2 linked regions of the Homo sapiens genome follow. Each later gene encodes a partner of the first gene's protein in a complex. Each region holds a gene or a part of one and is shown in the gene's direction. Other genes may lie near its edges.

What was found.
Region 2: the proteins of TRPC5 (region 1) and GNAI3 are in contact, whole or in part, in a cryo-EM structure (PDB 8GVX), measured with the Homo sapiens proteins. Residues at the interface, in NP_036603.1 of Homo sapiens: Thr27, Glu32, Glu33, Glu56, Ile57, Tyr58, Tyr59, Asn60, Lys125, Pro128, Thr129, Leu130, Met131; in NP_006487.1 of Homo sapiens: Arg205, Arg208, Lys209, Trp211, Ile212, His213, Phe215, Glu216, Glu245, Leu249, Ser252, Asn256, Lys257, Trp258, Arg312.

Annotation. Positions count from the first base shown.
Region 1 is NC_000023.11:112,075,082-112,090,600, reverse strand, and holds the start of TRPC5 (short transient receptor potential channel 5), read left to right. Parts: upstream 1-7,824; 5' UTR 7,825-8,722; intron 8,723-15,519. UniProt on the Homo sapiens protein: Forms a receptor-activated non-selective calcium permeant cation channel. Mediates calcium-dependent phosphatidylserine externalization and apoptosis in neurons via its association with PLSCR1.
Region 2 is NC_000001.11:109,569,060-109,584,339, forward strand, and holds part of GNAI3 (guanine nucleotide-binding protein G(i) subunit alpha-3), read left to right. Parts: intron 1-4,677; coding exon 4,678-4,720; intron 4,721-4,836; coding exon 4,837-4,978; intron 4,979-10,144; coding exon 10,145-10,302; intron 10,303-13,377; coding exon 13,378-13,506; intron 13,507-15,280. UniProt on the Homo sapiens protein: Heterotrimeric guanine nucleotide-binding proteins (G proteins) function as transducers downstream of G protein-coupled receptors (GPCRs) in numerous signaling cascades.

The DNA of each region.
Region 1 (15,519 bases):
TGGGATTAATCCCAGGAATGTATGGTTGATTAAACATCTTTAAAAATCTATTAATATCAATGTGATATACAAATTAATAGAATGAAGGAAAAAACCATATGAACATCTCAATGAGGAAAAAAAAGATCTGACAAAACTCAACACCCTTTTATGATTAAACCACTCAACAAAGTATGAACCGAAAGCAACTCCTTCAACCTGATAAAGGATGTTTATTAAAAACCCACAGTTAACATCATAGTCAGTAGTGAAAAATTTAAATCTTTTCCCCTAAGATCAGGAACAAGACAAGGTTATCCACATTTTTCCTCCTATTTAACATGGTACTGGAAGTTCTATCAAGAGCAATTAGACAAGAAATAATAAATGGCATCTAAATTAGGAAGAAGTAAAACTACCTCTATTCACAGATCTTATATATAAGATCTTATATATATATATGGTCTTATATATAAGAAATCCTAAAGAATCCATAAAACAACTATTAGAACTAATGAAAAAATTTGGCAAAGTTGCAGAGTACACGATCATTTGTTTCTGTAAACTAGTAATGGAAAATCAAAAAATGAATTTCAGAAAACAATTTAGTAATCAATAGTATCAAAAAGAATAAGATATTTGGGAATAAATTTAATCAAGAAGGTGCAAGACTTCCACACTGAAAACTACAAAACACTGCTGAAAGTAATTAAGGAAGAACTAAATAAATGGAAAGACATCATTGTGTCATGGATTAGAATACAACATTGTTGAGATGGAAATATTTCCCAAAACTATCAACAGATTCAATGTACTCACTATTGAAAGCCTAAAGGATTTTTTTGAAGAAATGGAAATGCTGATCTGCATTTGGATTTAAGGAACCCTGAACAGCCAAAACAATCTTAACAGTCTTGAAAAAGAAGACCAATGTTGGAGGACTCACACTTCCCATTTTCAAAACTTAATTCAAAGATAATAGTAATAAAAACGGTGTGGTATGGCATAAAGGTGGATCTATAGAACAGTAGAATAGAATTGAAGGTTCAAAAATAAGCCCATATGTCTATGGCCAATTGATTTTTTACAAGGTGCCAGTATCATTCGATCAGGAAAGAATGGTCTCTTCAACAAGTGATACTGGGACAACTAGATATTCACACACCAAAGAATGAAGTTAGACCCCATCTCACACCATAAACAAAAATTAACTCGAAGTGGTTTAAAGACCTAAATATAAGAGCTAAAACCATAAAACTTAAAAGAAAACACAAGAGTAAATCTTTATGACCTTAGATTGTGCTATGGTTTCTTAAATATAACACTGAAAGCATAAGTAACAAAAGAAAAACAGATTCCAGGGGGGAGGGATAGCATTAGGAGATATACCTAATGCTAAATTACGAGTTAATGGGTGCAGCACCGCAGCATGGCACATGTATACATATGTAACTAACCTGCACATTGTGCACATGTACCTTAAAACTTAAAGTATAATAATAATAAAAAAAGAAAAATAAAAAAAAGAAAAACAGATAAATTGGGCTTCAATAAGCTTTAATACTTTTGTACATCAGAGGACACTATCATAAAAATAAAAAGACAACCTAGAGAATGAGATAAAATATTTGCAATATTTAGATATATTGGATAAGGGACTAGTTTATGGAACATTTAAAGAACATTTATAACTCAACAACAAAAGGACAGTCAACCCAGTTTCAAAAGTGGGCAAAGGACTTGAACAGACATTTCTCCAAAAAAGATATATGATAGGTGCATAAGCATGTGAAAAGATGTTCATCATCACTTTTGTCACTGAGGAAATGCAAACCAAATCCGCAATGAGATACCACTTCACACATGCTAGGATGGCTGTAATCAACAAAATGGAAAATAACCAGTGTTGGTGAGGATGTGGAGAAACTGGAACCCTTGTACATTATTGATAGAAATGTAAAATGGTACAACCACTATGGAAAACAATTTGGTGGTTCCTCAAATAGTTAAATATAGAATTACCACATAATCCAGCAATTCCTCTCTTAGGTAGGTCTCCAAAAGATTTGAGAACATGTATTAAAACGAATACTTGTACACTAATGTTTGTAGCAGCATTATTCATAATAGAAAAGGTGGAAACAAGCGAAATGTCCAACATCTGATGAATGAACTAAGTGAAATATATTATATCTATACAATGGAACATCAGTAGGTTGCAAAAAGAAATTAAGTACTGATTATATGCTACAACACAGATGGACCTTCAAAACATTATATTAAGTAAAAAAGAAGCCAGACCCAAAAGGGTAGACATTGTATGACTCCATTTTTTTATGAGATATCCAGAATAGCTGAATCCATAGAAACACAAAGCAAATTAGTTGTCAACAGCTGGAGGGGGGCGGAAATGGGGGAGTGATTGATTCAGGGATACAGGATCTTCTTTTGGTATGATGAAAATGTTTTGGAGCCAGGCGCGGTGTCTCATGCCTATAATCCCAGTTCTTAGGGAGGCAGAGGTGGGAGGATAGCTTGAGCCCAGGAGTTTGAGACGTGCCTGGACAATATAGCGAGGCCCTGTTCTCCACAAAAAGGAAAAAAAAGGCAAAAAAAAAAAAGAAAATGTTTTGGAACTAGATAGAGGTGAAGGTTGCACAACATTGTGAATATACTGAATGTCACTAAATTGTATAGTTTAAGATGATTAATTTTATGTTATGAGTCACTTCAATACAAAAAGGCAGAAAGGGAGAAGAAAGGAAATTAGCAGTTAGTGAGCTACTGCTATATATTAGGCTCTGTGCTAGGCTTATGCATTATCCAATTAAATCCACTAAACGACACTGTGAGTCATTGTCCCCAGCTTACAGATAAGCAAACCAAAGTCCATGTAACCTAATTTCCATAGCTAAGAAACATGAATCTGGAATTCAAACCCAGGTCTGACTCCAAAGCCTACACCCTTTACCACCACCTACTCTGTAGGAACCTCCCATAGCTCGCCTCTCATTACTCTGTCCATAAGGACTTGTGTCTTTGATCAAGAATAAAGCATGGCTCACCAACTACTCCTTCACAATGACAAACTTTCCGGAGAGAAATGCTGAAATTTCTTGGCCCTACTCCCAGCCTCCATAGATTTTATAAAACATGATCTGCAGTTGGGGTGATTTTTAGGAGCTTCAGGAAGTCCTCATCCCAAGGACATACATGTTCCCTCATGCTTGAACTCTTTTCATTAAAGAGATAGAGCCCTTTTCCCCACAATTGGAAAAAAAAAAAAAAAAAAGCTGAAGACCAATCTACTCCTGGGAGAGGGAACACATTAGTATAGTGATTAGGACAGATTATATCATTCCATGAGGGATAGTTTTTAATAAGCTGGGGAGGGGGCAGGCAAAGTAAAGACTAAACCTACTCTTCCTGAGGTCCCACAGAGTCAGTCACAGACCAGCAAGACACAATTGGAGCCTTCTCTGTCACTATCCTCTAACCTCAGGCAAGGTGCTTCTCAATGGTCCAATATTCTGCAATGTCCTATGATTCTGCAATTACACTTTACAAATTTGCTCAGAGCTGGCCCCATTTGCATTGCTATTAATGGTGAGGACAGCAAAGTCCTTAGCTAATCCATGAAGTGAAGCTCTGTTTACACATCTTTTATTAAGATTAATCATTAATTAATGTAAGGCTTTATCCCTTGATTACAGGGATCCCATTCTGATATAACAGTTTAAATGTTCTCTTGAAAAATGAAACATATTTTTCAATTACAGTCATTCGTCGTCCCAATTCAGGCAAAACTTTTATTTAAATAAATAATTAGTCTTGGCAATAGCATCATAATGTATGAATGTGTAAAGTTTGAATGTGCTAATTGTTGGTTCCTGCATTAGTCTTTATAAGTGACATGTTGCTATATATATACGTGGTATTGGGCTAAGAATTATCCAAAGCAAGTAACACTGATGCAGTCCTGCCTGGCTCACCGGAAACTTATTTTCTAAGGCAGGAGCTTACTCAACTGATTTGAACAGATATTCCATGCTTTCTCCTGCATTTTCCTTTGCTGAATTCCTGATCAAGATCCTACAACTTGCATTAGTGTTGTTTGACTTCCTGAGGTAGAGATAGTGCTGAGTGTTAAAACCCATAATCACACTGAGATATTTTTTCAACACTCCACAGTATTTTAAGAATCACCTCTTTTTACATTCCATTTCTTTTGCTTTTGCCATTGTTGAGTATTTCTCTAGCATGCAAGTAGTTAGAAACTTTCCTTGAAAACAAAAACCTGCTTTCAAATTGCTCAATTTGTTACAGCCTTTGTGATGTTGTAGTCATTTTTATGCTGGATACAGTGTTATGACACAAATGCCACACGCTGAGAAGTCACAAAAAATTGTTGTAGGACTATGCTAATTAGCAAAACAAAATGCAATCTCTATAAGGCAGAACCTCAAACAATAAGCCACTGTTTGGGGACAAATAGGAAATAGAAGAGGGAAAAAGCCAGGTTGGATTCAATCCAGAAATTGGTTATCTATGAAAATCAGTAACCCTTTCCCCTTGGGGAAAGAAAGGTCAATAGTTTCTTAGCATACTGAAGGCTGGGATTATGTCTTACAGATCTTTGCTATAATCAATACCCTACTCATAGTGTGTGCTTGACAAGAATTTGATGGTAACCAGAAGATGGCATTGTTGATAACAATGAATTCCACCATTTGTCAAAACTTAGCTAATTTGTGAGGGTTCCTTTTTATGTCGTTTCCTCACAAAATATTCATTATTTTCTGAGACTCTGTTCAATGCAAAGTCTGGACATGCCATGTGGGTAGAATTAAGGTTAAAATATGGTCTTTGAAATGTGACATTACCTTAAATGGCACTCATTCTATATGGTGAGGGGATAATTTTGCTCCCCAGTGGACATTTGGCCATGCCTGGACGCATTTTTGGTTGTCACAAATGGGGTGTGGGTTCCTACTGGAATCTAACAGACAGAGGCCAAGGATGCTGCTAAACATTCTACAATGCACAGGGCAGCCCCCCAACAAAAGGAATCATCTGGCCTAAAATATCAATAGCATCGAGGTTGAGAAACCCTGCTTAATGACTGGGAAAACCCCACTCTCTGGATTCCTCATAACAGTTTCTCTTCACCTACGATGTTACATTAAACTCTGGTCTACATATACCATTTACCACTATGGTCAAGGCTGTAAGAAGAGAGGAGAAAAGAGTATGTCTCAATTACATTTTAACAGTCATACCTGTCATGGTATTTGAATAGGCCAGGCCATGTAAGTAAACCTAGTCTAGAAGCTAGGTAGTTCTGGGCTTAAATTAGTCAGATAGTGGCTTCCATTTTTGGCTTTGAGCCACTTTTGCAGATGTAGCCTCTAGGTGCAAACTACCCTGGGAGACATACACACTCAGCCACCAAGTGGAAAACCAGAATATGTCCCTATTGACAGAGAAGATGAGCCACCCAGCCCCAAGGCTGACAAGCAACCTAGACAAAGCTTGGGTCCCTGCCTAAGTCAGCTTTCTAATTGCACTAGGAGATACTCTGCTAAGTTTGTTTTGGAATTCGTATAGTAATGCCTGGCATTTGTATGGTGCTTTTAACTTTTGAAAGGATTTTTCTTTATATATCCTTGATCTGAAGAGGTTAGAAGGATAGGGCAGAAACAGGATAGGGCAGGAGCAGAGAAAGAAATTTTAACCTTATCCACAGTCCACTGGGAAAGCTCCAAATTTCAGAAGCACACACAGTCCTCATATGTTAAAGACAAGTGCATTGGATATAGGGCCTTTGAAGGAAACAGCTCACAAGAATAAGGCTTTTGCTCTCCCTGAGCACTGCTTCTGGTTGCATCTGGGCTTGGAGTGGAAGTCTCAGCTGGACTGCAGTTTGGCTAAAAAAAGGGAAATGCCCCCAAAGTTTTATCCACGGTCACATATTCTACTCACCCTCATGCCAAAGGGAAGACGGCTTAATCACAACATAGACCTCCCTTGTTTGGGAGACTGTATATTAGTTTGCTGGTTCACAGTAAAACTGCCTTTGAATGAAAGGCAAAGAATCAAGTGATTTTTTTTTTTCAGCGACCCTCTTGGCCAATCTTTAGAAACACTTCCTGAAGTATTTAAGTTGTTAAGAGGTGGAAGCTCCACCCTCACTTCTTCCTCCCCAACTCCCTTCCCCCCAGACACAAACTCTTCATCCCCCAGGGTAATAATTTTCTTTTCTCCAATACCTTGCTCCCATACAAAAGCTAAATACTCTCCAGAATATTGGACTGCCTCGGGACTAGGAGGACTAACGACAAGGGGAAAATTTGTCTTGCTTGGTGCCCCGAGCGACTTTTCCAAGGTAGGCTAGGAGGAGAGTGCTTAGGGCTTCCACTAAACATAGCTACTACCAGCTTCACAGGCTCCGCAATGAAAACACTCGGCCATTTAGGCAAGGGAGATGATTCTGGCATTTTCGGGAGCTTACACTTAGGCTCCCAGGGCGTGCAGAGGGGGTTAAAGAGCAACAGGAAGTACAGTGGAGTTTTCTCAGAGCTAGGGATTGTTCTGAGAATGGGTAGGGAAAGGTTTTCAGGTACCAGCCCGGCGTCCAGAAAGGCAGAGACTCACATGCCCCTTTCCTGAGAGCGCTAGGAAGGGAGATAAAAGACAAAGCCAATATTTGGGGCTGTGCGGCCAGGCCATGAAATGCTGCCAGCTAGTGGACCTATGCGCCTGCAGGTTGCAGGTAGAAGTCTCAGGCTTGTGGTGGGGGTGGGGCTATTTAGCCCCTTCCAGTTGGGCTCAAGAGGGTGGACATTCTGAGCGCCAGGCTATAAGGTGAAAGAAGTGGAGAGGTGCTTCATGTGAAAGGAAGGCGTAAAGATCAAAGAGTGGCCCAAGTGTCCGGTGACACCGCCCCTCTCCCTCCACAACAGATACCACTAAGCAACCTAGCCCCCCGCCCCCATCCTACAATATCACTTTCCCTCCCTGTATCAATCTAGGCTGGATCTTGGGAGATCGACCCTATGGGTGAGAGGGGCACGGATGGGAGAATTAGGTAGCTCCAACTAGATTAATCTAGATCTATCAGGGATCCAAGCCTGCCCCATAGGACCCCAGGTCAGTCCCTGGCGACTCAGCGCTCCGCTGTCTCCCTGTCCTACCAGCCGCCCGCCGCCCTTACTCCCCCAGGTTCAACTCCCCTTCCTCCTGAATGACCTATGGTCGCCGGAGCAGCCTCGCCACCACCGGCCCAGAGCCCAGGCTGACGGGGGTGGGCAAAGGTCACTGCCCAAAGCAGGGGATATTCAGGCCAAGGGGCAAAGAGAGACTCTGCTAGCCATATGCTCCGAGGGACTCCTGTCCCCTCTACCCGCACCCGCGCTTAGCCTCCCACCTCCCCTCCCGTCTCTGCCACCACCCAGGGGAGGGGGAGGTCTGGGGAAGCAAACAAACGAGACAGAAAATTCCGTACCGAGGGGGGAGAGATGAGACGGTGGGACGGGGCAGCGGGGGTTGACTTGGGGCTGCGGCTGCGGCTTCCTTCCACCCCTGGCCGCGGAGCTGCAAAGAAGGCAGGAGCTGCTGCCCCTGCCGCCTGCCCCGTCCTCCCTCTTTCCCTCTCGCCTCCCCGCCTCCCCCGCCCCGCCCCGCCGCCAGGAGATTGAGAGTGGCTTCGGCCCGGGGGCTGGGGGAGGTGAGGGGTGCTTTTGCCTACCACGGTTGTCTCAATCTCTCTCTCTCTCTCTCTCTCTCTTTCTCTCTCTCTCTCTCTCTCTCTCTCTCTCTCTCTCACACACACACACACACACACACACCCCACATCACAACCACGACGGGTTGTCCGCAGCTCGCAGCCACCCCAAAGGGAGGAATAAAGAACAGGAGCAGAGGGAAGCCGGGCGCAGAAAGAAGGGAAAAGGAAGAGCTCAGGGTTGGACATTTTTGGAGACAGGGGTGGGGAGGATAAAGGGAGCGTGCCTCCTTGATTTTCCCCTCCCCACCCCTCTTTGCTTTTCTCTCCCCTTCTCTGTATAGCATATTCCAGAAACGGCAGCAGAAGGGGACAGAAACCTCTAGTGTAGAAAAGGGTTTTGGAGGGGTAGCCAGCGCTCCCGCCAGCCGCTACCTAACAGCTGGAGCTTGAGTGTGCGTGTAAGAGTGTGAATGCGGCTCTCTCTCTTTTTTTCTCTCTCTCTCCCCTCTCTCTCCATCCCTTCCTTCCTCCCTCCTTCTCCCTCTCCTTCACACTACAGTGTCAGCTACCCCTGTCAGTTTCCCCGTGTCAGTTTCTTCCCTAGCTCTTATTGTGTGTGACTGGCTGCGTGAAGGGAGTGGGTGCGCTTGAAGGGGCTCAGGTTGGGTTAGAGAGCTGGGAGAACAGGGTAGGGACATTGGTAGAGCAAAGAGTTTCAGGGCACTGGCGAAGGTGAAAGGTGAGGAGGGCCGATCTGTTACAGGCAAGTTTGGCAATAACTGAGCATCCAAAGGGGAAGCCAAGGTAGGAGCCAGTACTTGCGCTCGTCTTTACACCCCGCCCCTTTCCCTGTGCTCATCCGCCCACCCACCCATCAGCCTAGAGGCCCCGGGCTGTCCCAGTCGGCTGCTGTTTCGCGCCGCAAAAGAGGAGTCCGGCAAGGCGCCGCACCACGCATCCTGGCCGGTGGACATCCAGACGACACAGATTTTATCCGAAAAAACCACTTGGCTCAGGGTAAGTCTACAGGCGGCCGGTGCGGTCCATTTCACTGCCTGAGTGCTGCTGAGGGGCAAGGGGCAGCGAAGTGCGGGTTGAATGAAGATGCTGGGCTGCTGTAGGCGGAGAAGCATTGACTGGCTGGCTGTGGGCTCAGGGTGGTAGGGAGCAGAGGGAGGCCAGCAACAGATTGTTTTGGAAGAGGAAATGCAATGGGGAGAAGCTCCAGGGTTGATAGGACAAGGTGCTGCCTGCGATGACCAAAAACATCCTTTCACTGGGAATATTTTCCTGAACCACAGCTTTGTCCTATCCCTGGACAATGATTTGCTCCATTCTTGGGTAGATTTTAAGATCCGTGGGGAACCTGCTCCCAGGCCTCCTTAAAATCGATTAGTGTGGCCCTCGGACCAAGGATACCTGCCCTTCGTCAAAAGCCACCTTCAGAAATAGAGAGCCAGGAGCCGGATCATGAAGGTTCAGGAACCAGGGTCCCCATTTACCTTCTTTGTCTTGTATCCTTCAAACTTAAGAAATGGCCAGATTTGTTTGCCTGTCTTCCTTAAAGGAACCAAGAAATGCAAATGGAGGGGCATCAGTCAGATCTCTGCTTCAAAGTGGACACCTCCCTCCCTCCCTAGACACACATCGACTCGGACAAATGGTCATGATCATGTCCCACATATGCAGGTACTGAGCTGAATTCACAGATGCTGATCTTTCTCCATGGTCTCTTAGAATGAGACTAGAAGGGCTTTTTCCCTATTACAACCTGGGCTCTTTGGATCGCAGTCATGTACCTGGTGATGGTTAAGTGTTTAGCAAGGTTATTACTCCCTCAGGAAAAGCCTGAAGCGGGGAAACCAGCCTGAAAGATAGAACCTCTGAACTTTACCCGAGTTTATTATAAGAGTAGGAGAGACATAGACTAATTGATAATGCTCTTTTTAGAGATTGTGCATGTTAACCCTTGGCTTCAAATGTGAAATGATTACAACATTGACATGGCACACCCAGACCCACTTTTCTATTGCCATATATTTATCTTCATGGCATTTAACAAGAATGACAGATTTATATATCAGCATTCATAATTGTCTATTGTTGGTGTCATAGGTTTTTTGATGTTTTATTGATGATTTATATTATGTCTCCTTTCCCATAAACTCTTTAAAAACTGAGATATAAATGATGTCACATGGTACCTTTCATCATGTCTTTAAAATCTGCTTATTCTAAATCAAAAGGCATGTTAATATATTTACATAGTACGAAGTTCGTTTCAAAGCAAATATATAGTCTGGGATAAAAGAAACCCACAGGGTCAAGGAGTCTCTGAAGCTCTCTCTGTGAGGTCGAAGGAAGAATTGAATGTCACCTAAAATCCACATTTTGGTCCCTGGAAGATGCTGTTTTCATAAACTTTCACAATATACATAGGGAGAGAGAGAAAATCTGTGTGTGTGTGTGTGTGTGTGTGTGTGTGTGTGTGTGTGTGTGTATGTAGTTTTTCAAGGACCTCAATCAACCCCATACAATCTTGGCTCTGCTTTTGTAACAGAGGGGAGCAGGAGGTGAATTTGTGCTTCCAAAGCACCCAGGTTCGTCTGTTAAACTTTCTATTTATTACTATGTTACCAAAATGCAATGAATTGCCTCTTTCCAACTCAGCAAATAAGAGAAACGGATTCTGCATTAAGTGAAACTGTTTATGTTGCATCAGGCAATTCTTTCTAATGTTCACTGCTGAGAGAGAGCAGAATGAGGATTACTCAAGTAGGATCTGAAAAGGTGCCCATTCTGTTACTTTTTAAAGCAACCATAGTAAGTATTTTCTTAGGTTAAAATTACACTTTCAAATAGATATACTAAAGACCGGGTTGCAGACAGGTAGGAAAGAACTGGCAGCATCATAATTGGGGAAAAACTCAAAATATCAGCACGAATGAAGCCTACAGTGTAGGTTTTGCTCTGTTCTTGGTGATGTGAGTATCTGGCTGTTGAGGTAAGTCCTGATGGTTACCCAGGGGATAAGCATGTGAGCAGGTTCAGGGATTCAGAACCAATGTAGCCCCCGGCTTCACTGATACTAATTCACCTGGCTTCAGTGTACATCTCAACATGGAGACCTGAACCAGATATCTGCCATCCTTCCCAGCCACAAGAGCTATAATCCTAAGATTCTGTTCTTTCTATAGCTAACAACTAAAACCGGAATGGCACGCAGAACCACAGTACTTAGAGAAGACTAGGCCAGGAAATTAGAGATGCAGAAGGGAGGAAGATGAGAGGAATATGAGAGAACCGAAGATGTTTTGAAACAAACAGAAAGAAAACTATCCAGGTGTTTGCTTTGACTGGGAATGGAATTAATCCAGAAATCAACTCATATGTGAAGCATCTTAAAATTGCCTGTATTTGACTTGCAAACACTGTGTAAACAATGATAGAATTCCATAGTACCAGGGAATTGGGAACCTTGGAGTACATTCTCAGTGTTGCTGTCTCATTTCTCTCCTTACAATATTAAATTCCAATCTGCAAGCCATTCAGGTGCTTAGTTATTGAATGGATATTTCAAATGTGTCATGATGCTTTCCTGTAGCCTGTTTTCGAATATTCTAATTTATTTTTTGCCATGGCTCCATCACTGAAGGTGGTAGATTGAAGCATTTCTGCCTGCTTTACTTCTGCCAAAGGTTCCTGTTTTCACCTTAGTATACTAAGCTGTTCAGATGCCTCCTGCTAACTGATGAAGAATATAAGGCGCAGAATCTCTCTCCCCAAAGTACTCTGTGCCACAAGGTGCCACTGGCCTAATCTGGCCCAGTCATTTGCCAGGTTTGCAGGGAAAGGTATGACAAAGTTTGCAGCCTATAGACAGAAATAAAGCCTCATTCTAGGCAGAAGTTATTCCTCATCCCACAGATGAGGGATAAGCTAAGGCCAGCCATCATGTCCAGAGCCTAGTAGCTGACATATCCACAGTGTCATCCTTTCTAAAACTCACGAAGCTTTTCTTCTGTTGATGGGCCCCTCAAACTTTGTCCAGTGAGACCAGCAGAGCCATACTGCCAGCAAGGAATGATTCCTGAATGACTCAACTGTGGTCTTATAAACAAACATGTACATCATGCTCAACTGAGTGAGCACAGATGATTTAAAGAAATTATAAAAGCTGATAGGGGCTAAGAAAAATTGCAATTTGCTGGGTGAAGGGAACTTTGCAAGTTTCTTAGGTTTGGTTTTCTGTCACCAATTCTGGAGTTGGCCCTTGGATGGTGGTGGCCAATGCAATTGCCCCAGGTTTTTGCCTTAGCAAAAGGAAAGAAAAAATAACGATAAGAAACAAGCGGGGATCTTGGAGGGGTCAATCCTCTCATTTCACCTATAGAGAAATTGAAGTCTAGAGAGTAGAAATGACCTGCCTAAAACAGACTACTAGCTAACAACAGTGGCAAAACCACAACCCAGTACTGTTTGCTGATACGAAATACATTTTCTGAAGTTCTGTGGAGATCTTCCCAAGAAATCGAGAGGTAACTAAAGTCAAGTTTACCAAGATCACAGCCCTCTACTTCCATTCCATATGTATGTATACGTGTTTATATTATATGCTGCTGTCATATCTTTGTGACTTACCTTCTTGACCACCACCTCCCCCTAACACACACACACTCACACACACAATCCTATCTTGCTAGCTAAGAAAACATTATATGTGTCTATAGCTAGCGTATTCAGATGGAAGGCAGAATTAAACATGACAAAAATTTAGCTGCTCACATTTATGTGTCTGATCTGGCTCACACCACCAACAGCAAGGCATCTAGAAATCCCAGTCTGTTCTGCACCATAGTAGTTTTGGGGAATGGAAGCTAGCAGAATCCAGTGACTATGGCTCTGGTTTAGTATACTCAGTCTCAGAATCAGCCCCCCAAATGCATGTGCAAATACACACACATGCACACACACACAAACATGCACATACAGTCACACTCTTTCCGAAAAATTAAAACAAAGAAAATAGAAAAGATAAGGCAGGTGGTTTTTAGAGCAGAGTACAAGAAGAAGGAAAGGTTTGCAGACGGATATTCTTACCTTCCCCCATTCTTTAGCCTTATTGCCTAATTTTCATTAATCCCACCCTAATTTATTTTAGGATCTGAGAAAATAGAGCAATGCAAACATGTTTACTACAGCCCAGAAGGATGATCTGAAAAACCTCCACATTTGAGTGAGAATATCACAAGGATAGGGAAAAGGCTAGGATGTAGTGAGCTAGAGCCTTGCTACTCCAAGTGTAGTCCCCACACCAGGATTGCCACCATCCCCTGGGAGCTATCTATAAATGTAGAATCTCAAATCCTTCCCCAGACCGACTGAATAAGAATCTGCATTTTATGAAGATCCCCAGTGATTCATTTTTATACTAAAATTTGAGAAGCACCGGGCTAGAGCTTATCCAAAAAGCATCTGAAAGATATTTGAAAATAAACAATTACCTACTGAGCATGTAGGGACAATTCATGTGGCTTATCAATTAAAAAATAAAATATAAACTTTTTCCAGGTCCACTTATCTTATTATTCACTGTAAAACCCTTCAGTGTGGGCAAGAGAGTTCATGTAAAGGGAGTGAGATCATAGGATTTGTTTATTTACCAGGACGACTTGGGTGTGGGAACTCACACAGACCTGAGTTCAAATCCTGGCCCTGCTCACGAATTACTAGCTGTGTAAACATGCACTTTGCCTCTAAGCCTCACAGTCCCCATCTATAAAATGGGATTAATAATAGTACCAACTGGCACTGGGCTGTCATGAAAAATTAAATAAGACCGTATAATGCACTGGGATATGGTGAACAATCAATAAATAGAAGATATAATTCATACGATTTGGCTAATAATTTTAGTTTGGTAGAAAACCAACCACTAGATGTGATATATTGGGGCACCTAGCATTATTTCTAATTGACGTGAATCTTACTGGGTTTTCTACAGATAGAATGCTAAGATATACAACAGTAAAATATATTTAAATATGATGGAGGCCACTAGAAACAAATATTTTTTCAGAAGGAATTACAGGTGTCCCTAGTGAAATCACTCCATGGAAGAAGACTGAAGTCAGAAGTGGCCCTGTTCTATGAAGCATATCTCAAAATATTACCAAGTTAGAAAGTCAAAAGTGAGGCATTTTCTGCATGTTTGCATATATATGCAGCATGAAAACACACACATACATACACACACACGGACGCATCATTTGATGGACAAATTATAAAATAATTCAAGGCCAAAATGACATTCTAGGAGCAGAACTAGGTTTCTGCCTGATAAAATCTTTAAAATGCACAAATAATAACCTCTACTTCGTAACTTGCTCATGTTGCACAGTTTAATGGCTTAGGTATATACTATAGCTATTACTATTTTGTAGGTGAAAAAAAAAGAGCAACTCCTACCTCTTCCCAGCCCATGGTGCTACCTACCTGCTCAATTTTCTCACCAGTAAAATATGATACACGTAGTACTCATAAAGTCCAAGAAATCACCAGGCACTTGATTCTATAAAGACTTATTGACTGGCATGTGCAATCTGGGCAACCTGATTGTAAAGACACAGAGACAGACACTACCACCTCTGGATCCCAGTCCTTTGGTATGTTCCAGACCTCCAGCTTCCCCTGATTTTCAATAGTATCAGATTAGTAAGGTATCAATAATCTTATAATAGACAATATTTATATCTAATTGCTAAGATTTCTGTGATCACCCTAAATAAACAATAGCACGTGTTATCAATTATTGACTATCTTTATATTAGTTTTCTATTGCTGCCATAACAAATTCTCACAACCTTATCAATTTAAAACAACACAAATTTATTATCGTTATAGTTCTGTAGTTCTGAAGTCTGACACAGGGATCACTGTGCTAAAATCAAGGTTTCAGCAGGACTGCCTTCCCTTCTGGAGGCTCTAGCAGAGAATCTACTTCCTCACTTACTCAGATTGTTGGCCTAATTCACTTCCTTGATGTTACAAAACTGAAGTCCTAATTTCTTTGGTGGCTATCATTCCTAACTTCTAGAGACAACCCACATTCCTTAGTGCATGGCCCCATTCCTCTGACTTCAAAGCCAGCAAGGGCCTGTTTGATGAGGGGGAACTCAGCTGGCCAACTCCTGTCTCTTCTCCCTTTGCATCTCTCTCTGGTTGACTGTTCTGCCTTCCTCTTCTGCTTTGTTTTGTGCTTACATTGGGCCCACTGACATAATCCAGGATTATCTCCTATTTTAAGGTCTGCTAATTAGCAACTTCAATTATATCTGAAAAATCTTTTTCACCATGTAACATATCATATTCACAGGTTCTGGGGATAAGGGTGTTGACATATTTACAGGTTGGCCATATCTTGTCTACCATAATCTTCTGTGTGTTGAGTGCTACAAATATGGGGTTTTAAATGACATTCACTACAGTTTCTATATGATAGGTATTATTATTATTCCCATTTAACAGGTGAGGAAACAGGATCAGACAAGTTAACTGGTATGTTTAACATTGCGCAGCTTGTGAGTGGTGGAGGCAGGGTTGGAACACAGGTCACTCTTCCTCCAAATCTTGAATTTTCCCTGTTGGCCTACATTATGCTGAACGTGGCCTGAAAGTTTGTAACTCACATAAAATATTTAACCTCAAGAACGAACAGAAAACGTTATCCTTTTGATTGTTGTCATCTTTACATAGTGGTCATCACCAGAAATTTTTTTAGTAGCTTTTAGTCTAATGATAAAGACCAAACAATG
Region 2 (15,280 bases), on another chromosome or scaffold:
GAATGAAACTAACATGGCTTCCTTCCTCCTTTTATTCTCAAAAATCTCCGTGACTTCACCTCTCATCCTTTTCTCCTACTTATATAGGATATCCTTTAAAGGATAAAGCTTCTGTGTTGAACGGATCCTATTGCCTCCTGTTTCTGGGACCTTTCCAACTTTTTCTCCCCTGTGTATCCTAACCCCCTGCATAGTTCCATCCCTTCTGCATACAGAGTCCTCTTCAGTTCCTCCCTTTTGAAGCCATAGCTGCTGTCTTTGCAGTATCCTTTGCATCTTCCCATTCTTTGTATTTCAACTATTACTTCCCTGGTGTATTGAAGATGGGCAACTGAATCTCTCCTTAAACTTGTGATACATTTTTGAAAAAAGATAGATAAAAGATGCAGATAAAATTAGGAAGTTCTGAACACCACATGTGTTGTGGAGTAGGGAGATGGAACATAGGAAGCAGCTTGGGGAAAACGCAACAATGAGATGTTATGAAAAGGGAGCTTACTGCTAGAACAATGGAGCACAGAGAGTTGAGGTAAAAGTGAAGAGCCCAGACCTAATAAGAAAGGGTTATAGAAAGTGTTTCAATAATTTGGAGAATTATTAGATAAACTGATGGTTTTAAAAATAGTGCCCCTGAGATGGAACTGGAAGCTCAGGAGAAGATATTAGTGTGATAATAAAGGGAAAGGCAAACTGACATTTTCTCAGGGAGCCTTGGAAAAATGTGAGAGAGGTAGGGCAACAGAGGGTTTTTTGTTTTTTTTTTTAATCAGCGCATCCATAGGGTAGGATTAATGAGATAGGTAGAAATTGATTCTGAGATTAATGGATTTATTATTTCATTCAAGATAATCTCACATGAATGATGGAAATGTGGTTTTCAATATATAAAAGAATGGTACACATTAATTCATTAATCTCAACTTTTCTTAATTTAGTAGCTCTTGTTACTATGGATAATCTGGGAATTCTGTCTTTTAAGCAATTTAAAATATAACTGGTATGCATTTGTATTTTCTTCCCAGAGTAGAATCATTGGATTTTTTAGATATGAATGAGAGGATTCACCTTTTTATAACAGCATCCTAAGAAAGTCACTATGTGCTATTTGAGTATTAACTATTTAGTACTACCCCTGATTATCGATTATGTAATAAGACAAGATCATATATAAATGTACCTTTTGATTCTGTAAGAATGTAGTTGTCTAGAATTTTTATATTTGGATTTTAATTAACTTTTGGTTAGTAAAGTTGAGAAATATTTAGTAAAGAATCATGGTTACTAAATATTATTCATTGTTTAGTAATATTTATTTGAGTAGATAATTTATGTCATGACCAGTTTAAGGCCCTGGGAATGCAGGGATGAATAAGCCTTCATGGAGCTTATATTTTAGTGGGGAAGATAAGAAATGAGCTAATCTGTCATGTGAAGAAGTGGTAAGTGCTATGAAAAAATATAACACAGAATAAGGGGAGAGACTGTGACGGGGTGGGAGCTATTTAGATAGATTAGTCAGAAAAGGCTGTTCCTGTGAGGAAGAAAATCTTGCAAAACTTATTTCAGGTAACAGTAAACGCAAAGACAGGAAAGACAGAGTCAGGACCTAACTCAGTAAGAACCGGTTTGGTATGTTGGAGGAAAAGCAAGAATGCTGGTCTGACAAGAGCTGTGAGGACAAAGTGGAGAGTAACAAGAGATGAGGGTGAAGAGGTAGGCAGGGGCCAGAGCATATTGCACCATAATGCCCATGGATTTTGAGTATAATTGAAGATCGTGTGACAAGATCTAATTTACATTTTACAAAGTTTATTCCACCTACTGACTGGCAAACTGGCTTTAGAAAAGGCAAGGTCTGAAGCACTGAACTATTTAGGAAGCTTTTGCAGTGATCTAGGCCTATGGTTTCCAATGTTCAGGAACAAACTGTTAAAACTATTATATTAACTATTTATATTGCTTTATTTAAAAAAATTAAGCTTTACTAATATTTAATATACAGATTGGCACTGGCATCCTTGTCTTATCTGCACGTTAGTCACATGTCATTTAACATTTTTGGCTTGAGCAACTGGTGAATGTTGGTGCCATTTACTGGAATGAGAAGACTGAGGGAGGAGCAGGGTTTGTTTTGAGGTGAGAGTGAGTTGGGGAATCAGTATCTCAGTTTTGAGCATTTTAGGTTTGTGAAATCTAAATACCTACTAGAAATCTAATATCAGGTAGATGGTTTAGATATATGAATCTGGAGCCAAGGTTAGAAGCCAAGATTAGAGATCTAAATTTGGAAATCATTAGTATAGAGACAGTATACACCAGCTTTGGAGCCAAACTGTGAATGCAAATTTCAGTTCTGCCACTTACTAACTGTGTAATTATAGGCAAGTTACTTGACATCTGTCTGCATCATTTATCTCATCTGTAAAATGGGGGTAATAATGTCTACCTCATAGGGTTATTGTGAGGATTAAATTAGTTATTACAAACAAAGTGATTAGAACAGTGTGGCCGAGGGTACTCACTAGATGTTAACTGTTAGGATCAGTTTTTGAATAGTGTTTAAGCCATGAGATTAGGGCCGGGTGCGATTGCTCACTTCTGTAATCCCAGCATTTTGGGAGGCCGAGGCAGGTGGATCGCTTGAGCCCAGGAGTTCGAGAGCAGCCTGGCAAACATGGTGAAACCCCGTCTCTACTAAAAATACAAAAATTAGCCAGGTGTGGTGGCGTGTGCCTGTAGTCCCAGCTACTCAGGAGGCTGAGGCAGGAGAATCACTTGAACCTGGGAGGCAGATGTTGCAGTGAGCCAAGATTGCGCCACTGCACTCCAGCCTGGGTGACAGAGCAAGAGTCTGTCTCCAAAAAATAAAGACCATGAGATTAGATAACTTAGAGAATGAGTTTAGATAGGGAAAAGGGCCAAGGAGGGACCCCTGAAGCAATATAACCTTTAGAATTCAGAAACTGGGTTGGGTGCGGTGGCTTTCGCCTGTAATACTAGCACTTTAGGAGGCTGAGGCGGGCAGATCACCTGAGGTCAGGAGTTTGTGACCAGCCTGGCTAATATGGTGAAAAACCCTGTCTCTACTAAAAATACAAAAATCAGCTGGGTGTTGTGGCAGGCGCCTGTAATCTCAGCTACTCAGGAGGCTGAGGCAGGAGAATTGCTTGAACCTGGGAGGCGGAGGTTGCGGTGAGCCGAGATTGTACCATTGCACTCCAGCCTGGGCTACAGAGCGGGACTCCATCTCAAATAATAATAATAATAATAATTCAGAAACTGGAGAGAGGAGATTGAGGAGTGAAGTAGGAATCAAACCTGAAGGGTATGTTGGCTAGAAGCCTGCCTAGTGAAGAAAATATTTCAACTTAGACAAATTCTGCTTGAGAGGCTAAGATGAGCACCAAGAATTGACCAACTGGGTTTGTCAAGATGGAAGTTTTTGGAGACCTTGAGAAGTAGTTTTATTAGAGTGGTGGGGATGAAAGCCTGATTAGCATAGCTGAAGGACAGAATTGGATGTACGAAATTGGAGGCACTGAGTATAGATGGCACATTAGAGGAGTTTTGCTGCAAAGAGGGATAGAGAAAATGGTGTGGTAGCTAGAAGAAAATGTGTGGGGTCAAGGAAAGTTAGGGGTGTGTATGTGTGTTGATTTAAAGATGGAAAATAGTATAGTAAGTTTGCATGCTGATGAGAATGACCCAGTGGAAAGAAAAAACTGATCATATTTGAGATGTGGAAAATATCATGGGAAATTGCAGCAGCCATGACCTTGAGTAGGTAAAATGAAGGTGCATAAGGGGAGAAGTTGATTTTAAAACATTGGCAGAGACTTTTCATCCATTGATGAAGGTAGAGAATATTAATGGAGGTACAGATAGACTGGTAGATGTCGTTGTGGGAAAATGTAGTTTTTTCTGATTGCTTTAATTTTTATGGAAAAGTAGGGTAGGATCATCAGTTGAGAGTCAGAATTGGGAGGGGGTTTATAAAATTTGAGAGAGAGGAGGTGGTGTGATATAGGCATCTTGGAAGATAGGAAAATGAGTTGACTAGGGAAGATCTAGCAGGTGGATTTGTCAAGGAGGTCAGAAGGCTAGCTTGACATTTGTGGTCATTTGTTTAAAGTGATTCCAGCTGGCTAAGGAGGGCAGGGTGGTCTTGAGATGACATATGGTGAGAAATTGATAGGAACAATGCCTTTTCTGCTTCTATTTGAAACATCTTTAGTCCTGTGACTGGTAGTATTGCTCTCAGAACATTTCTGTGGTATAGGCAGGCAGCAACAGAGGAATTAATAAAAATGAATAGACCAAAAAATAATGATTTCATTTTTGCCCATGTTCAGTGTTTATATCATGTTTTATGTAGTGAATGAGTTCCTCCAAAAGTTTATGTTGCCATCTGTCCTTGGATATGCCTATTTTACACAAATGATACCAAGCAAGCCCTAGGACACTTTCAATAAATTATACTTGGTTGCTGAGTTATGTAAAGAAAGCAAAATGCTGTAGTGGAGAAGCTCCATACATTTTCTTGATAGACATGAAAGCCTCACCAAAATTTTCCCTAGGACCCGTGGTTTTCATCAATCTAGAGTTATCATTCATGTTGATATTATACTTTTATGTTGATTACCGAGAAATTCAAAGTCTGGTTTTCTTTTCTTACAGGTGCTGGAGAATCTGGTAAAAGCACCATTGTGAAACAGATGAAGTAAGTTGGAATGTAGCGTTTTGTTAGACTAGGATTTCTCCTAATGCATATAAAGTCCATAGTATCTTTTCATTTTAGGTCCATGGTATTGACTTGTGGTTTTCTTTGTTTTAAAGAATCATTCATGAGGATGGCTATTCAGAGGATGAATGTAAACAATATAAAGTAGTTGTCTACAGCAATACTATACAGTCCATCATTGCAATCATAAGAGCCATGGGACGGCTAAAGATTGACTTTGGGGAAGCTGCCAGGGCAGTAAGTGTTTCTCATTTCCTCTTCACTTGCTCTTATTCAGCAGATACAGTTAAGTTAAGCAAAATTTTTGCTTCATGTTTTAGGGAAATGAATTTAAGCAACAAGATAAAATGTAGCAAAGTACTTTGTGCTCACTTGAGAAATGTTAGCAATCTACTTTAGCAGGTGTTAGATATAACCACCCCAAGAGGAGCCTAGGAAATGGGATTCTGTGGGTGCACGGTAGGTTTCTGGGATAACTGTTCTATTCAATTGCTTTTTTTTTTTTTTTAACAGCACTGTTGACTTTTATAGTAGTAGATAATAGTACATTAAAATAATCTAAGAGAAAGGTTGCCATGATATGTAGCTCTGCTTTCTGAGGTGTACAGATTAAAGGCCAAAATCAGTCTCCCAGAATAAATTCTGTAAGGACATGAGCACTAAGTCCAAATTCTTGAATATCTAAGTCAGATATTCAAGAATACTGTATACTACATGGAACCTAAGGCTATAGAATTGGAGTATAACATGCCCTAGTATAATTCTTTAATGCCTTGCACATGTCAGCTATTTAAAAAGTTGTATTATTATAATAATACTTAGTGGACCCTGAAGATCTAGTTTATAAAATTAGAGCATGTGTAATTAGGATGTTTTATGCCATTGGGGAGGGTGCCAATATGAAGGCAGGAGATCTTTGATATTATTATCAGCTAAAATCCAGAGAAGGCTGGGAAATTATAGAATTATTTCCTACATCTAAGGGACTCACTGGCTGTGTTCAGAGTGTCATACTTATGTGCCATGGCGAAATAAAAGGAAATGATTTGGGAGGTCTGCCTGGAAAGGCAAAACCTATATGTCTATGAAGTTGCTTAGGAACTCTCATAAGCCACTCCCAACTTATCAAATGCGAATTTATATTTGATAAAAAGATAGGAAATTGTTGAGGGGAAATACTGAAAGGGTAGTCACAGTTGGATAGTGTTAGACTAGAAAGTGTCTTAGAAATGGCATAAAGGAAGAGGAGCTGGATTAGGGATTGTGAAATGAGAGACTTGTATCAAAAAATAAGAAAATATGTGAATGTGACTTTTATATTTTTGTGAAATATATCACAGAGACTATTTTTCTATGCATCTGAGCAGGGAAGTTTGGCAGTCAAGCAAAAATAAAGCCTTTATCCTTGTCTTACCCTTTCCTATTCCTTCTCTCACCCCCTGCTTTTGTTTCCTTCTTTTCCTCTTTTTCTTCTTTATACCAGCTCTATCTGTGGTCTTATTTTTTCTTCCTCCCTTTTCTCATTTCTCCCTATCACCTAACTCTACTTCTCTGTTGTATTTGTTGTATCTGGTAACTGGTCAGTAGTACTGTATTTATTCTCTTCCTTCTCTCTGTTGGTTTTTTCTCTGTCTCAGTTATTTATTCTTTTAGTTTGTCCCTTTTCTCTTTCCCTCTTTAATTTTATTCCCCGCCGTCTGTCTTCCTTTATTTATCTCCCTACCCTTTCATTTCTTTTTTTTTTTTTTTTTTTTTTTTTGGAGACGGACTCTCGCCCTGTCGCCCAGGCTGGAATGCAATGGCTGGCTGCAGCCTCTGCCTCCCAGGTTCAAGCGATTCTCCTGTCTCAGCCTCCTGAGTATCTGAGATTACAGGCGCTCACCTCCACGCCCAGCTAATTTTTGTATTTTTAGTAGAGATGGAGTTTCACCATGTTGGCCAGGCTGGTCTCGAACTCCTGACCTTGTGATCCGCCCGCCTCGGCCTCCCAAAGTGCTGGGATTATAGGCGTGAGCCACCGCTCCCGGCCCCATTTCTTTCCATTATCAAATCAATTGTCATTAATCTTTGTATCCTAATACTCTTGTGTCACCAGATGCAGTTGACATCATTAGTCCCTCTCAGGCCTCCTAAATCATCCAGCTTTCTGGTGTCCACACAACCTAGTCTGTAATCCTATATTATAATTTTTAAACATTGCTTTTTATTTTTCCTTCTGTGTGTAAGGTTTTATGTTTATAGCTCCTCTCTTATTGTCTTCTAGTATTTTTGTTTGTTTGTTTTTTGAGGCGGAGTTTTGCTCTTGTCACCCAGGCTGGAGTGTAACGGTACGATTTTGGCTCACTGCAACCTCTGCCTCCTGGATTCAAGTGATTCTCCTACCTCAGCCTCCCAAGGAGCTGGGATTACAGGCGCCTGCCACCACGGCTGACTAATTTTTGTATTTTTAGTAGAGATGGGGTTTCGTCATGTTGGCCAGGTTGGTCTTGAATTCCTGACCTCAGGTGATCCACTTGCCTTGGCCTCCCCAAGTGCTGGGATTACAGGTGTGAGCCACTGTGCCCGGCTTCTACTCTAGTTTTTTATAGTTGGTTAGAGAGTGTGAATGGAAAAAAAATAGAGCTGAGTGTGGAATAGGTTCCTTTTTCACATCTGCTTAAGTGTGGAGGTGTGAAGTTTATTGTAAAGAGGGGCCTCTTCTGTTTTTTTTTTTGTTGTTGTTTTTTGTTTTTTTTGAGACAGAGTTTCACTCTTGTTGCCCAGGCTGGAGTGCAATGGTGTGACCTTGGCTCACCGCAACCTCTGCCTCCTGGGTTCAAGCGATTCTCCTGCCTCAGCCTCCCGAGTAGCTGGGATTATAGGCATGCACCACCATGCCCGCCTAATTTTTTTGTATTTTTAGTAGAGACGGGGGTTTCTCCATGTTGGTCAGGTTGGTCTGGAACTCCTGACTTCAGGTGATCCATCTGCCTTGGCTGCCCAAAGTATTGGGATTACAGGCGTGAGCCACCATGCCCAGCCAAGAGGCACCTCTTTATAGACCTTTAGAGAGGGTTTATTGTGGGGAAGCAAGAGCAGGTCAGTGGAAGAAATTAAGTGATAAGAAAAAAGTGTTTGCTCCTAAAAGAATATTTAAAGAGTCAGGACAGCAAAAAAAGTAGTAATAATTCCCTCTCTTTTGAAGTTTCTAAAATTAGAGTCATGGTTTTTTTCTGTTTTTTTTTTTTTTTAAAGTAGTGCTTAATAAGGTTATTTGAATACGTGCATGGGTATAGGTCAAATTTCAGAACCAGGGGATTATGAAGACTTCACATGTTAGATAAAGCACCATACCTTGCATATGTACAAGGACATGCTCACTGCTGAGTATGTTTGCCAATTTGTCTAATATTTCAACTTTTCTCATTCATTTGTTTAAAATTTTATCTTTGAAAAGAAAGGGAGGGGCATATAGATCTTAGCTAAGGTGTTTTTTTTGTTTTTTTTTTTTTTTTGAGATGGAGTTTTGCTCTGTCGCCCAGGCTAGAGTGCAATGGCACCATCTCAGCTCACTGCAACCTCCGCCTCCTGGGTTCAAGCAATTCTCCTGCCTCAAACTCCCGAGTAGCTGGGACTACAGGCACACGCCACCATGCCCAGCTAATTTTTGTATTTTTAGTGGAGATGGGGTTTCACCATGTTGGCCAGGATGGTCTCAATCTCTTGACCTTGTGATCCACCCGCCTCGGCCTCCCAAAATGCTGGGATTACAAGTGTGAGCCACCATGCCCGACCAGCTAAGGTGTCTTAGAGTTGAGCCTAGTCTACCGCCATGCCACCCTGAATGCGCCTGATCTCAGAAGCTAAATGAGAGTGGGTTGAGCCTAAATATTACTAGAAAGAATACAGGAAAGGATCATAAAGGAGGAAATATTACTAGGTAAAAACCATTAGAGCTGGAGACCCAGAGTTTGGCAAAAATAATTTGAGTGCACCATGGATGGTTTTGTTTTGCTAAGGTGGATGCACAAGTTCTGGTAATTCACAAGTCTTTGGAGTTTTAGGTTGTGAGTTCACCTGTGGTCTGAAATGACTTTTGCTTGTTAGTTTATTTGTCTTGATGACTACTTAAGATACAAATGATTGCTCCCCTTTCTCCTTTACTTTTTCTTTACACGTTATATACTTTTTAAATTTTTTATTTTTATAGTTATTTGGAATCTCTCAAGGTAGATAAATATTAGATGTGGATGGGAAAATCATCCCGTGAGACCTGTGTTTAATTTTAAACCAACAAGTAGGGATGGATAGAATAAAGGAAAACAATAAAAATCTCATAATCCATTTCTGTCCTCTCCCTCACATATTTTATGTTTAAAAACTATAACCACCTAGAAAACTATGGCTATGTCTGGGCCCAGTGGCTCACGCCTGTAATCCCAGCACTTTGGGAGGCTGAGGCGAGTGGATCACCTGAGGTCAGGTGTTCGAGACCAGCCTGGCCAACATGGCGAAACCCCTCTCTACTAAAAATAGAAAAATTAGCTGGGCATGGTGGCAGATGCCTGTAATCCCAGCTACTTGGGAGGCTGAGGCAGGAGAATCGCTAGAACCCAGGAGGCGGAGGTTACAAGGAGCCGAGATCACATCATTGCACTCCAGCCTGAGTGACAAGAGCGAAACTCCGTCTCAAAAAAAAAAAAAAAAAAAAAGAAAAGAAATAAAGAAAACCATGGCTATGACTCATGAAGTTATGGTTACTTTCTTTTCCTCCTGCTCCCTTCCTTTCCCTCTCTCAGAACATTATTATTATTCCTTATTCCTTTAGGGAAATCTAGGGACTGTTTGAATCTTTCCCTGAGGGATTTATTTCCCCCATTAGGCTTCTAGACCTTAAGTGCCTCCATCTCCTCTTCTTGTTCTACTGTCTGGGCTGAAGGCAAAGAAGAGAATACTTTTTTCTTAAACTTGATTAATGTTTTACTCCCTTTGAGGTGTTTAGACTTTACCTCTTATGTGCTAGTCTTTTTATTTCTATTTTTAGTGTAGGCTTCCTTTAATAGAACGGGAATGTTTTACATAATCCTGTCTCATAAACCAGTTTTTTTCTCTCAAAAATTATTAGCAATCTGGATGGAGATTTGTGGGCTGGCCAGAAATGATCTTTTCTGGGGATGGTGGTGTGTGGAGGAGTGGTGGGGAAGTAAAATCATTCCTCAGCTCAGTTCTGGACTTAAAACTGTAGTGAAATGAGAATAAGGAAAGACTTAATTATAAATTCTGTCATGCTGGCCTGTCAGAAAAGGTCTCTGTAACAACACCTCTTTTAACATAACATGTAATGTGTCTATATTTTAAAGAGACTGTCATCAAGTCTTAAAGAAATGGAGAGTCATCTGTCTCTTTCTTAACTGCTTTCTTCAGGATGATGCCCGGCAATTATTTGTTTTAGCTGGCAGTGCTGAAGAAGGAGTCATGACTCCAGAACTAGCAGGAGTGATTAAACGGTTATGGCGAGATGGTGGGGTACAAGCTTGCTTCAGCAGATCCAGGGAATATCAGCTCAATGATTCTGCTTCATAGTAAGTAATTTTTCTCTGTGAAACTATAACAGAGAATAACTTGGTGACACTACAGAAATTTTAGTCCCCACTTAAGGAAATGTTTAAGTAATAGACACTCTTAGACGTTTATAGGATACTTTATAAAAATTGTCTAAGTTTAGGATTATAGAGCCCTTGGTCATTTGTATGATTTGGAGAAAAAAGTTCCCTCTTGGAATGTAAATGGGAGACTTGGCACCACAAAATTAGTTCCATGGCATTTTATTATAAGCAAGTGAAGGAGGAGAGACATCTGTTGTGGCTGGGTTCTGAATCTGTTCCAACTCATAAGTTCCCTCTGTGTAAGGGCTTGGCACTGATAGCCAGCTAGAGAGGGAAATTAGAATAGTGGTATTCCTTTTTATGCAGCCAGCTCTCTGTGTCTGGGCCGCACTATGGACTTCACTAGTAACCCTTTTGCCAGATCACAGTAGTAGACTTTGTATAGAAAGAGAAGGTTGAGTCATGGAATGAAGTTGAAGTATCTTTTTGTCAAGGATATTATCTTGAGTGTTAATATAGTTTTAGAGAATTTGTAATGAATACTTATATTAAGCTATTACATGTTATCCTATTTTACCTCTTTTACATATACTTATTTATGAAACCTAGATTCAGAATGTATTTTTTTTGTTTTGAGACGGAGTCTCGCTCTGTCGCCCAGACTGGAGTGCAGTGGCTCCATCTCCGCTCACTGCAAGCTCCACCTCCCAGGTTCACACCATTCTCCTGCCTCAGCCTCCCAAGTAACTGGGACTACAGGCGCCCGCCACCATGCCCGGCTAATTTGTATTTTTAGTAGAGACGGGGTTTCAACGTGTTAGCCAGGATGGTCTCGATCTCCTGACCTCGTGATCCACCCACCTCTGCCTCCCAAAGTGCTGGGATTACAGGCGTGAGCCACCGTGCCTGGTCCGGAATGTATTTTTTTTTAATGTACTTTTGCGGGGCCTGGTGAGCACTTGTTATCTGTATTTCTCTCTGTACTGGATGAGGGCACGTTTAAGCATTAAAGTTTTTTCTCCAATATTACTGTTTTCCTACTTTTCACGTCATGATTCTAGCTTAAATTGTTACAAGAAGAAATTAAATGATATAGTCAGGCTGTGCATAAGGACAGGGATACTTTCTGAAAAATGCATCATTAGGTGATTTGTCATTGTGTGAACATTGTAGAGTATGCGTACACAGAATTAGATGGTATAGCCTACTACACACCTAAGCTATATGGTATAGCCTGTTGCTCCTAGGCTATGAACCTGTACAGCATGTTATTGTACTAAATACTGTAGGCAATTGTAACATAATGGTAAGTATTTGTGTATCTCAGCATCTCTAAACATATAAAAGGGTAATGCAATGGCTATGATGTCACTGGGGCTAGGAGTGTTTCAGCTCCATTATAATCTTACAGGATCACTAGCATACATTTATACAGTCTGTTGTTGACCAAAACATTGTTATGCAGCACATGACTGTATTTGAAAACTTGCTTATTCTTTCAATGAGAACTTGGCTTTAGAAACGTTTCAGGATTCTTGCCTACCTTTTAATAACATCTTAGTTGCAAGTATTGATAGCTTAAATAATTCTACCAGTGGTCATCAAAGGTAGATTATAATTGCTTTTTTTCATCTTTCATTCAGAAAGCTCTGAATCCTCTAACTACATGTGCTTATAGAGATTTTCATAACTGTTGATCTAAGCTTGCCTCTTTACATTAGTGATAGTATTTGGTTTTATAGATCATTAATGATTCACTTACATTGGTGCCATCTGCTCATCAGTTTTCTAGCCTGGAATCAGCAAAGAATACAGTTTTGAAGCAGTCTTTTAATTATTTCCCTGAACAAATTAATTTTTTTGGAGGTATTTACAATTTGTTTTTGATTTAGATTAAAAAAAAAAACCCCAGACCTCCCCAGCTCTTCTGTTTACTGAAAGAAAACGGAAAATATTCTTACTCACTATAGTTCTCTCAATTTTAGTTAATCAAACACCATTCTCTAATGTCCTGTCAAATGGTTAAACACGCATGACCTATTGAGTTTAATTGTCTGAGGACTTTTGGTATAGTTTGGTTTTGATATTATACAGTACACAGTTGATTTAGTATTACATTTCAGGAATTTTTCTTTAATAAGAACATTTCCTGTTCCTATTGTTTTAATTTTTTAAATTGGCCTTCACAATTTAATTCTGTAGAATTAAACCTACTTTTGTGTCCGGGCGCGGTTGCTCACGCCTGTAATCCCAGCACTTTGGGAGGCCGAGACAGACGAATCACCTGAGGTCAGGAGTTTGAGACCAGCCTGGCCAACATGGTGAAACCCCATCTCTACTAAAAATACAAAAAATTAGCTGGGCGTAGTGGCGGGCACCTGTAATCCCAGCTGTTCAGGAGGCTGAGGCAGGAGAATCATTTGAACCCAGGAGGCGGAAGTTGCAGTGAGCCGAGTTCGCACCACTGCACTGCAGCCTGGGTGACAGAGTAAGACTCTGTCTCAAAAAAACAAAACAAAACAAAACAAAACAAAAAAACCTACTTTTGTTAATATATATAGACTCTATACTTTAATTGTCCTATGTTGGATTCATATTTTTTCTTATTATTTCTTTCTTTTTTTAAGAGACGGGGGTCTCACTCTGTCACTCAGGCTGGTGTACAGTGGCACTCTGCAGCCTTGACCTCTTGGGTTCAAGTGATCCTCCTGCTTCACTCAAGGGTAGGAGGATTAGCTAGGACTACAGGCATGCACCACCATGCTTAGCTAATTTTTAAAATATTTTGTAAAGACGGGTTTCTTTATGTTGCCCAGGCTGGTCTTGAACTCCTGGCCTCAAGCGACCTTCCTGCCTTGGCCTCCCAGAGTGTTGGGATTACAGGTGTGAGCCACCATGCCTGGCTTATCATTTCTATGATACTGAAGATCTGATTCTGTTTTGCCACTTAATAACTAGTAACAGGTTTAAAATAGGAACTAATTTAGTCTGTTCATTTGCTATGCACATGGTTGGCTTCACCAAGTAAAAGTAAACGTGTCTTTTATTTAGTTATCTAAATGATCTGGATAGAATATCCCAGTCTAACTACATTCCAACTCAGCAAGATGTTCTTCGGACGAGAGTGAAGACCACAGGCATTGTAGAAACACATTTCACCTTCAAAGACCTATACTTCAAGTAAGTCATTAGCCTTTTTGCTAGGTGTGCCAAATACAAGTATCTTTCATTTTAGTTTACCATCTCTTAATCAGGGTAAAATTTCTCTGGGCAGTATTCCTTGGTTTAAACTTAACATATTTATCAGCATTGTTTGAATATTTTAACTGAATGGGGGCCCAAACATCTCTTGTTTCTCCAAATAGCGTCAAATGTTTGTGTCCTTTTAGAGGAATTTAAATTCAAAAATAAATTTAACTTGCCTCCCAGTAAAATTTTTCCTGTGATAACTGGTTTGTTTTAATTTTATTATTTTCAGCTGCTTTTTTGTTAGACTCACCAATTCAGATATTGAATGTTTAATAGGATAACAATATTAAACTTATGAAAACCAGTTTTTTTTCGGTTAGTTACATGGTTTTGTTTTGCCATTTTGATTTAAAATAGAAATGCTTTTCTCACCAGTGTCACTTCTTATTGGTTTGAATTTCCCTTCAAGTTGAATGGAATGGAGCAAGTATTGTCATGGCTCTTAAAGTAATTTGTGCATAGTGTCATGTACAATTAACTTCTTAATACAGTGCAGAATGGAAAATAGACTTGGGGATAGAGGTATTTTGGGTTGGTAAGATGACATATAAACAGTGATTTTTTTGGTTTGTTTTTAAATTTTTATTTTTTTAGAGACAGGGTCGTACTCTGTCGTCCAAGCTAGAGTGGAGTAGTGTGATCACAGCCCACTGCAACCTTGACCTCCTGGGCTCAAGTGATCCTTCTGCCTCAGCCTTCCAAGTAGCTGGGACTATAGGCTCATGCCACTGTGCCTGGCTAATGTTTTAAAAAAATTTTATGTAGAGACAGGATCTCTCTTTATTGCCCAGGCTGGTCTCAAACTCCTGGGCTCAGGCTATTCTCCCACCTCAGCCTCTCAAAGTGCTGGGATTGCAGGTGTGAGCCACCGTGCCCAGCCCAACTGTGATTGTTTTAGAGAGAGAAAATTCTAGTATTCTAATACAAATAACTTTCTCATTAGCATTAGTAATTCTTTTTTTTTTGAGATGGAGTCTTGCTCTGTTGCCAGGCTGGAGTGCAGTGGTGCGATCTCGGCTCGTTGCAACCTCTGCCTTCCGGGTTCAAGTGATTCTCCTGCCTCAGCCTCCTGAGTAGCTGGGAGTACAGGTGCGTTGCACCACGCCCGGCTAATTTTTTTTTTTTTTTTTGTACTTTTAGTAGAGATGGGCTTTTACCGTGTTAGCCAGGATGGTCTCTATCTCCTGACCTGGTGATCCGCCCACCTTGGCCTCCCAAAGTGCTGGGATTACAGGTGTGAGCCACCACACCCAGCAACATTAGTAATTCTAAAACAAGCCTCAGCTTGTCTCTGTGTTAATGGTCTTTTATAAATATTAGAAATGTTTATTTTGGTTCCCATTTTCTTCTTTTGTGACCTTTGAGATTAGGAGTAAACTTTTCCCCTTCAATATACCATGTGTTCTTTAGTTATGGCATTATGCTTATATGTAGAATGTGATGTTTGTTATTATTGCATACAGATGTAACTACTACCTCAAATCCTCTCAGTTCTTTCTCTGAAAACAACTGTTCCACAGGATTTGTGAAATCCACATAGGGTTTACGTATTACTAGATACCAGTTGGGGTCTTGAAATCCTAATACACCAAACTAGATTTTTTCCTGGTGCAGGAAAATAGCAGTTCAGCTATGAATGCTTTTAGAATAGACTTGCTGCTTATCTTTAGTACTGATGAATTTATTTAGCAAGAGCAGCAAAGAC